Homo sapiens: one gene and its partner. The protein of the gene in region 1 interacts with the protein of each later gene in a biochemical or structural test. Each region holds a gene or a part of one and is shown on either strand. Other genes may lie near its edges. The genes, in order: OTUD3 and PPARD.

Region 1 (3,918 bases):
GAAAAGAAACCTGGAAGTCTGCACATTCTCTTTGTGTGTCAGTTGAAGGCTTGGCTTGTTACATTGGTGAGTCTTGAGTCATAGTTACCTGTTTTTAATGTCAGTGTGCTGCCTACCTTGTTGTACTGTGAGATTCTCAAGGGCAGGGACTGTGTGTCTTTGTTTTGCGGTGTGGCAGTGCCCGGCATCTGGTAGACATTCATAAAGTGAATAAATGAATGGTTCACTATACTATTAAGGACCTGGTCACCCTTGCATCTGGCTGTATCTTTAGGATTATTCTTTTCTTTTAGACTGTGGCTTCAGAGAATCAGCAACATCTTTCCCCCAACTGTACAAGTATCCAGGTCAGAACCTGAGTATTCTTAATGCTTATCTTCCTCCCTTCTCTTACCCGTTCATTACATGTTATCACTCTACCTCAGCAGTTTTTCTTTCACTGCTACTACCCCGTAAAATCAGACCTCTGTGGCCATTTGCTTAGATTTCCTCCATACTGTTCGGTATCATTGTCTCTTGATTTCCTCAGTCTGTTTTCTACATAACAGCCAGAGGGGGATCTAAATGTGTTTTTCCTCTGTATAAAAGCTGTTGATGACTCATCTATTGACCTCAGGATAGAGCCCAGACTTTTTAGTTCTTCATGATCTGGGATTTTCTCATTTCTCTGTCCTCATCTCTTGCCATTCCCCCCAACATTTTCTCACTTCCTCCACCTCTCCATCTCAGCATTCTCAGTTCCTGCCATATTAGAGTTCTCTCTCTCTCTCGTGTCTGTCTCTCCTCTTCTTAGAACATCATCCATTTCTCCTGTCTTAACTCTTCCTTGTCCTTTGGGTATTAGCTTAGTTGTCTCAGTTGAGAAGCTCCTCTGATACACCTTACCTCCCGCTCCTCAATTCCACGTTGGCTTATGTTCACCACCTGGAGTTAGCCAAACTGCAGGGTTCGAGAACACAGTCCTTGCATGACTTCCCTCAACTTTTGGTACCATCTACAAGTTGGGGTCTCCCAGAACCTCCCTTAGGTTCCATAATATGGTAGTAGGACTCACAGAACTCACTGAAAGCTGTCATGCTAACAGTTACGGTTTGTTACGGGGAAAGGATGCAGATCAATACTACTAGCCAAAGGAAGAGATGCATAGGACAGTCTGGAAAGGTTCCAGACACGAAGCTTCTGTTGTCCTCAGGGCATATTCTCCTCATAGCATCTGTGTGTGACAGTACACATAGAATATTGTCACCTGGGGAAGCTCACCCTAACTTTGGTGTCCAGAGGTTTTTGTTTTGTTTTGTTTTGCTTATTGATTTACTGCATGTCTAAGTGGTTGAACTCAGTCTCCCCTCTCACCCTATCACCACCACAAAGGTCTGATGCCAGATGTGGTGGAGAGGCCCGTCATGAATAACAGACACTCTCATCACCTTTGGGAATTCCAGAGGTTTAGAAGTGACCTCCCAGGAGCCCAGGATAAAGGCCAGACCTCTCTTTGGGCAAGGCCAAATTCTTACTGCACATGCCCTTCCTGAAGTACTTGTGCATCATTAGTGCCTATCTTGTTTGCCCCTCACTGGTTGTGAACTCCGCGAGGGCAAATTGATGGAGTGGCTGAGAGCCAGGACCTTGGCATTGGGCTGCGTAGGTGAAACCTCAGCTCCACTGTGTACCAGCTCTTTGACCTTGGCACAGTTTTCAGCTATTCTGCATCTGAGTTTCCTCATGTATAAAATGGTTTGTATAATAGTACTTGTCTATGAGATGTGATTAGATCAGTGCTTGACACATAACAACCATTCACTAATGCAAGCTGCTAAGATTACTGTGTTTATTGTTATGTTTCTAGTGCCTTTTATTGAGTTAGTATATTGGAAGTAATCAGTAAACATTTATTGCAGAAGAAATAAATGGATCTTTGCTTTATGAATGACTAGTGTTCTTCTGAGTAGCAGTCTTGTATTGTTCAACTAGCTAAATTCCTAGACTCTGACAAAGTTAATGGACTTCTCAGATATATATCGTTGTTTCTTATTATTTGGAACTCAGTAAATACCAAAGCATGTTTGCATTTAGATTTTTCCACTATAAAGACGTCATTTTTCTTTCCTATTTCCATGCAGTGGCCAGTTTGGCAAAGCCTGGTACTTTTGCTGGCAATGATGCAATTGTAGCCTTTGCAAGAAATCATCAGTTGAATGTAGTGATTCATCAACTTAATGCCCCTTTGTGGCAGGTAGGTCACCTATTTAAACATTTATCTTAAGCTCTTATTTCTAAGTCAGCTTTGGGAATATCCGAAGATGAGGGGCTTGACCTGTGAACATTGAATTATGCGGAGTAACTTGGTCTACGAGCCTAACCAAAGACAAAAATCTTGTGATGGCTCAGAAGTAATCCCTGTGCTATGTACAAATGGAGTCCGGAGTATAATTTAGAAATCTTTTAAAATGCTATAAATATTCAACAGTCAGCTAATTGGGCAGGTTGGGGACAGAGAACCTAGTGTGGAAACACAGGCTGTCACCCCCTAAAGTCAGAGTGCTGCCTGTTGCTTTGTACCTCAGCTCCTAAAGACTGAGCATGTGGTTTCTGTTAATTCCCCACCCACTCTGCCCTGCTCCACCACTCACCGCTTTCTCACTTTTTCTAATTAAAAAGTTAAAATACAGTACTTGTAGAAAAGTTAGAAAATTGAAAAAGCTCGTAAAGAGAAAAAAATTTTATTAAAAATTATATTTAAAATTTTATTCAATCACCCAGAGAGAGGTTATTGCTGTTAATGTTTTAGTGAGTATTCCTGTCATTCACACACACTTGGCTATAAAAACATTGATACATAACTGGAAAGGAACATATCACAATGTTTTTACACACTTTTAAAACACATACACACATGTATCCATATCCACATATATACGGACACTTCTGTGTTATTAGCATAAAGGTAACAGTGCCCTTTTTTTCATATGACACCTGCATATATTCCTTTGTAAATTGCTCAGTCATAGCCTTTGCTGATTAAAAATAGGTTTATAGGGATATAATTTACATGTAGCAAACTTCATCCTTTTCCAAGTATACAGTTCTATGTGTTTTGACAAACACAGTCATGTAACCACCACTACTATCAACACAGACTAGTCTACTCTCGAAAAAGTTACTTCCAGGCTCTTTGTACTTTGTAATCACTGGCCCCCTCCCCCAATACCCAGCCTCTTGTAGCCCATTCTCTGATTTGTCCTTATAGTTTTGCCTTTCCAGAATGTCATATTAAAGAATGCAGCCTTTTGTCCCTGGCACAGTGTCCTTTTAACAAAACTATGCTACAACAAAGTAAGATAGTGCAGGGATGGTGAGAAATTTTACCTTATGGGGATAGAAGGAGCAGGAGTGAAACAGTATCTGCTTGTGTTCTTTGGGGCAGTGTTGCGGATGTCCTGACATCAGGGTACCAGATAGAGCTATCATATTTTCCATGGGGTTCTGTTTTCCAAGGGCGATGTTTGAGCAAAAATACTGGTTACCCCTTTGTTCTATTTTTTGTCTTTAAACTTACACTGTTTTGCAGAAGTTAACAAAATCATTTGAATACACAGCATAATGACCCTCACCTTGAAGGGGAATACTCACTACCAACTCAGTAATCAGCTTGCCTTTTCCTCCATTGATGACTTTTTTCCCAAAGTTTCTTAGTTACCTAGGTAGTTGTGGAAGACATTTCTGCATAGGTAAATTTTTTTTTGAATTTATTTCTGTAGTGTTCTCTTTCATAAATTCCTGAGCATTGAAAGTACATCTTTTTAAAATAAATTTACTAATATTTCCATTGGATCCCCCTATGTCTTCCTACCCCAGTGAAGCATCTTATAAAATTTAAGAACTGAAACTGCATTGGTTGCTACTTTCATGGTTATGGGC
Region 2 (3,918 bases), on another chromosome or scaffold:
TCTCAGATGACCTGACACAGCATGAAAGCTACTGCCAAGGCCAGGTGGCCCTTCTTGGTTATAGAAGGCAGGCAGTAACCAGTAAGTAACCACATTTGTCAACTGCCAGGAGCCAGGCAGAAGTTTCTTGGAGGTCACCCACTCCCAGGAGACAGAGCCTTCTCTGCCCTGTGCTCCAGGCCTCCTGCAGAGCCTTGTCTTCGGACCCCAGGGTAGGATATTGCAAAGCCCACCTGTCCCCTCAGTACCTCTCTGAGTAAGACCCCTAGAGGACAGGGGAGAGCCTCTTGTGATCTCTACAGGCAGGTTAGCTGCTTGGCCAGCTTTTACCCAGGGATGCCCTAACTGCCTTGCATCTTAGAGGGTAGCAGTACCTGAGCCCTCCATTTGCGGCTCTCCTGGGTAATGGGGTCTGGCAGGTCTGGGTTTGACTCCTTTCTTAGGAAATCTCGGAACTGACTGAATCCCTCTCCTTACGCTAACTCCAGGAGAAGTCGAATTCGTATCCTACTCAATTACTAATGACAACAATTTTTGAGTGCTTACTATGTGAGGATTCTTATTTAATTGATCTAATAACTCAGTAAGTTTTAAAAAGTATTAGCCTCATTTTTCTGATTAAAAAAGAAAAGTGGCCAGGTGCAGTGGCTCACACCTGTAATCCCATCACTTTGGGAGGCCAAGGTAGGAGGATTGCTTGAGTCCAGGAGTTTAAGACCAGCCTGAGCAACATAGTGAGACCTCATCTCTACAAAAAAAAAAAAAAAAAAAAAAAAAATTTAGCCAGGCTTGGTGGCGTGCACCTGTAGTCCCAGCTACTCAGAAGGCTGAGGCGGGAGGATCACTTTAGCCCAGGAGGTCAAGGCTGCAGTGAGCCATGATTGTGCCACTGTACTCCAGCCTGGATGAGAGTGAGACCCTGTCTCAAAACAAAAAAAGAAAAAGGCTGGGCATGGTGGCACATGCCTATAATCCTAGCACTTTGGGAGGCCAAGGCGAGTGGATCACCTGAGGTCAGCAGTTCAAGACCAGCCTGGCCAAGATGGTGAAACTCTGTCTCTACTAAAAAAAAAATACAAAAATTAGCCAGGCATGGTGGTGGGCGCCTATAATCCCAGCTACTCGGGAGGCTGAGACAGAGAATTGCTTGAACCCGGGAGGCAGAGGTTGCAGTGAGCCGAGATCGTGCCACTGCACTCCAGCCTGGGAGACAGAGCGAGACTCTGTCTCAAAAAAAAAAAAAGAAAAGAAAAAGAAAAGTGAAGGAGTCTGCCCCAAGTCACAAAGCTAGTAAACTGCTGAGCTGGAACTCAAGCCCAGGCCTTTGTCACCAAAGTCTGTCTTACCCCAGCTAGCGTAGCTCAGTCACTCAGTAAGTTAGAGTCCTTGTGTGCTGGGCACTGTGAACAAAACAGACAAAATCACTGCTCTTGCAAAGATACACCAAAAAAAAAAAAAAATCACATCTTGTGGAGCTTGCGATCTGGAGGGGCCACCCCATCATTCCTACCTTGCTGACTCTAGAGCTTCTGGGGGCCTTAGGCTCCAAAAGGATTTGGCCCATGCACCTGTAAAGGGATGGGGATGTCAGAGGTGCTGGGGCCTGCCTGGGCTCCTTGCTGACTGCCCCCTTCCCTGTGCAGCTATCCGTTTTGGTCGGATGCCGGAGGCTGAGAAGAGGAAGCTGGTGGCAGGGCTGACTGCAAACGAGGGGAGCCAGTACAACCCACAGGTGGCCGACCTGAAGGCCTTCTCCAAGCACATCTACAATGCCTACCTGAAAAACTTCAACATGACCAAAAAGAAGGCCCGCAGCATCCTCACCGGCAAAGCCAGCCACACGGCGGTGAGTGTTGCTGCTGCTTGGCCTGGCAGCATCCTGGGCTCTGGGTCCCACTGCCGCCTGCCTGACTCCGGGAGAGCCAGGCCTTCTCCCTCCCTCAACTTCATGGTGCAGGCAAGGGACATGGGGAGCACAGGGTGGGGGTCTCCCGAGGCCTGATCTCTAACGGGGCCTGGTTTTCAGCCCTTTGTGATCCACGACATCGAGACATTGTGGCAGGCAGAGAAGGGGCTGGTGTGGAAGCAGTTGGTGAATGGCCTGCCTCCCTACAAGGAGATCAGCGTGCACGTCTTCTACCGCTGCCAGTGCACCACAGTGGAGACCGTGCGGGAGCTCACTGAGTTCGCCAAGAGCATCCCCAGCTTCAGCAGCCTCTTCCTCAACGACCAGGTTACCCTTCTCAAGTATGGCGTGCACGAGGCCATCTTCGCCATGCTGGCCTCTATCGTCAACAAGGACGGGCTGCTGGTAGCCAACGGCAGTGGCTTTGTCACCCGTGAGTTCCTGCGCAGCCTCCGCAAACCCTTCAGTGATATCATTGAGCCTAAGTTTGAATTTGCTGTCAAGTTCAACGCCCTGGAACTTGATGACAGTGACCTGGCCCTATTCATTGCGGCCATCATTCTGTGTGGAGGTGAGTGAGAGTGGGGCAGGTGGGCTGGCCTGGCACACCCAGTCGTCCTGGGGGTTGGCCCTCACTGCAGGGCACTGTGCCTGAGCTCTGACAGTGTGGGGAAGTGTCCCTGTGATCTTGGCAGTGGAACATGCAAGGCACTGACTGAGCATGCAGGATCAGCTCCATCTCATTATGTACGTAGATAGAGGTGGAGACAGGAAAAAGACTAAGCCAGACGTGGTGGCTCACACCTGTAATCCCAGCACTTTGGCAGGCCGAGGCGGGTGGATCACTTGAGGTCAGGAGTTCGAAACCAGCCTGGCCAACATGGTGAAACCCCGTCTCTACTAAAAATACAAAAAATTAGCCAGATGTGGTGGCACGCGCCTGTAATCCCAGCTACTTGGGAGGCTGAGCCAGGAGAATCGCTTGAACCCGAGAGGTGGAGGTTGCAGTGAGCCAAAATCCCACCACTGCACTCCAGCCTGGGTGACAGAGTGAGACCCTGTCTCAAAAAAAAGGAAAAGGACTAACAGGCAGTATGCTGTCATGTTAATGTGGGGTGGAAAAATTGTCTGCATTTTTTCTGCATTTTTAAAATTCCAACACAATAAATACAATAATAACTATGCTAACTAACAGTGGTCTAGAGCTTACTTCATGCCAGGCACTGTTCTTTTCATCGATGATGACTCACTTGATCCTCACAACAACCCTGTGCAGGAAGAATGTTTTGTGTCTCCATTTTACACATCAGAGAGGCTGAATGACCTGCCTATAGCCTCACAGGCAGACACAGGATTTGAATTAAGCATTGAGTCTCTTAACCACAATACTACGTTGCCTAATCGGGGGGGAGGTGGGGACAAATTGGCAAAAAACAAAAGAAGTGGATTAAGACCAGGGGTAGGGAGATTAGAACACCCAGTGGAGCATTGCTGATGGGACAGGGCTTGGTCTGTCACGGCCAAGGAGGCCTGCCGTCCCCTGGGCCAAGTCACCTCTTGGGGTGGAAGTAGGGGAGCTCCACTGCCTTTCTGAGCTCCCTGGCGTGCCCTGTGTCCCCACAGACCGGCCAGGCCTCATGAACGTTCCACGGGTGGAGGCTATCCAGGACACCATCCTGCGTGCCCTCGAATTCCACCTGCAGGCCAACCACCCTGATGCCCAGTACCTCTTCCCCAAGCTGCTGCAGAAGATGGCTGACCTGCGGCAACTGGTCACCGAGCACGCCCAGATGATGCAGCGGATCAAGAAGACCGAAACCGAGACCTCGCTGCACCCTCTGCTCCAGGAGATCTACAAGGACATGTACTAACGGCGGCACCCAGGCCTCCCTGCAGACTCCAATGGGGCCAGCACTGGAGGGGCCCACCCACATGACTTTTCCATTGACCAGCCCTTGAGCACCCGGCCTGGAGCAGCAGAGTCCCACGATCGCCCTCAGACACATGACACC

The links.
Region 2: of the proteins of OTUD3 (region 1) and PPARD, one has a biochemical effect on the other in vitro, tested with the Homo sapiens proteins (one study listed by BioGRID).

The regions. Positions count from the first base shown.
Region 1 is NC_000001.11:19,892,248-19,896,165, forward strand, and holds part of OTUD3 (OTU domain-containing protein 3), read left to right. Parts: intron 1-2,120; coding exon 2,121-2,233; intron 2,234-3,918.
Region 2 is NC_000006.12:35,422,303-35,426,220, forward strand, and holds part of PPARD (peroxisome proliferator-activated receptor delta), read left to right. Parts: intron 1-1,643; coding exon 1,644-1,846; intron 1,847-2,026; coding exon 2,027-2,477; coding exon of another isoform or gene 2,478-2,485; exon of another isoform or gene 2,486-3,098; intron 3,099-3,529; coding exon 3,530-3,777; 3' UTR 3,778-3,918. UniProt on the Homo sapiens protein: Ligand-activated transcription factor key mediator of energy metabolism in adipose tissues. Receptor that binds peroxisome proliferators such as hypolipidemic drugs and fatty acids.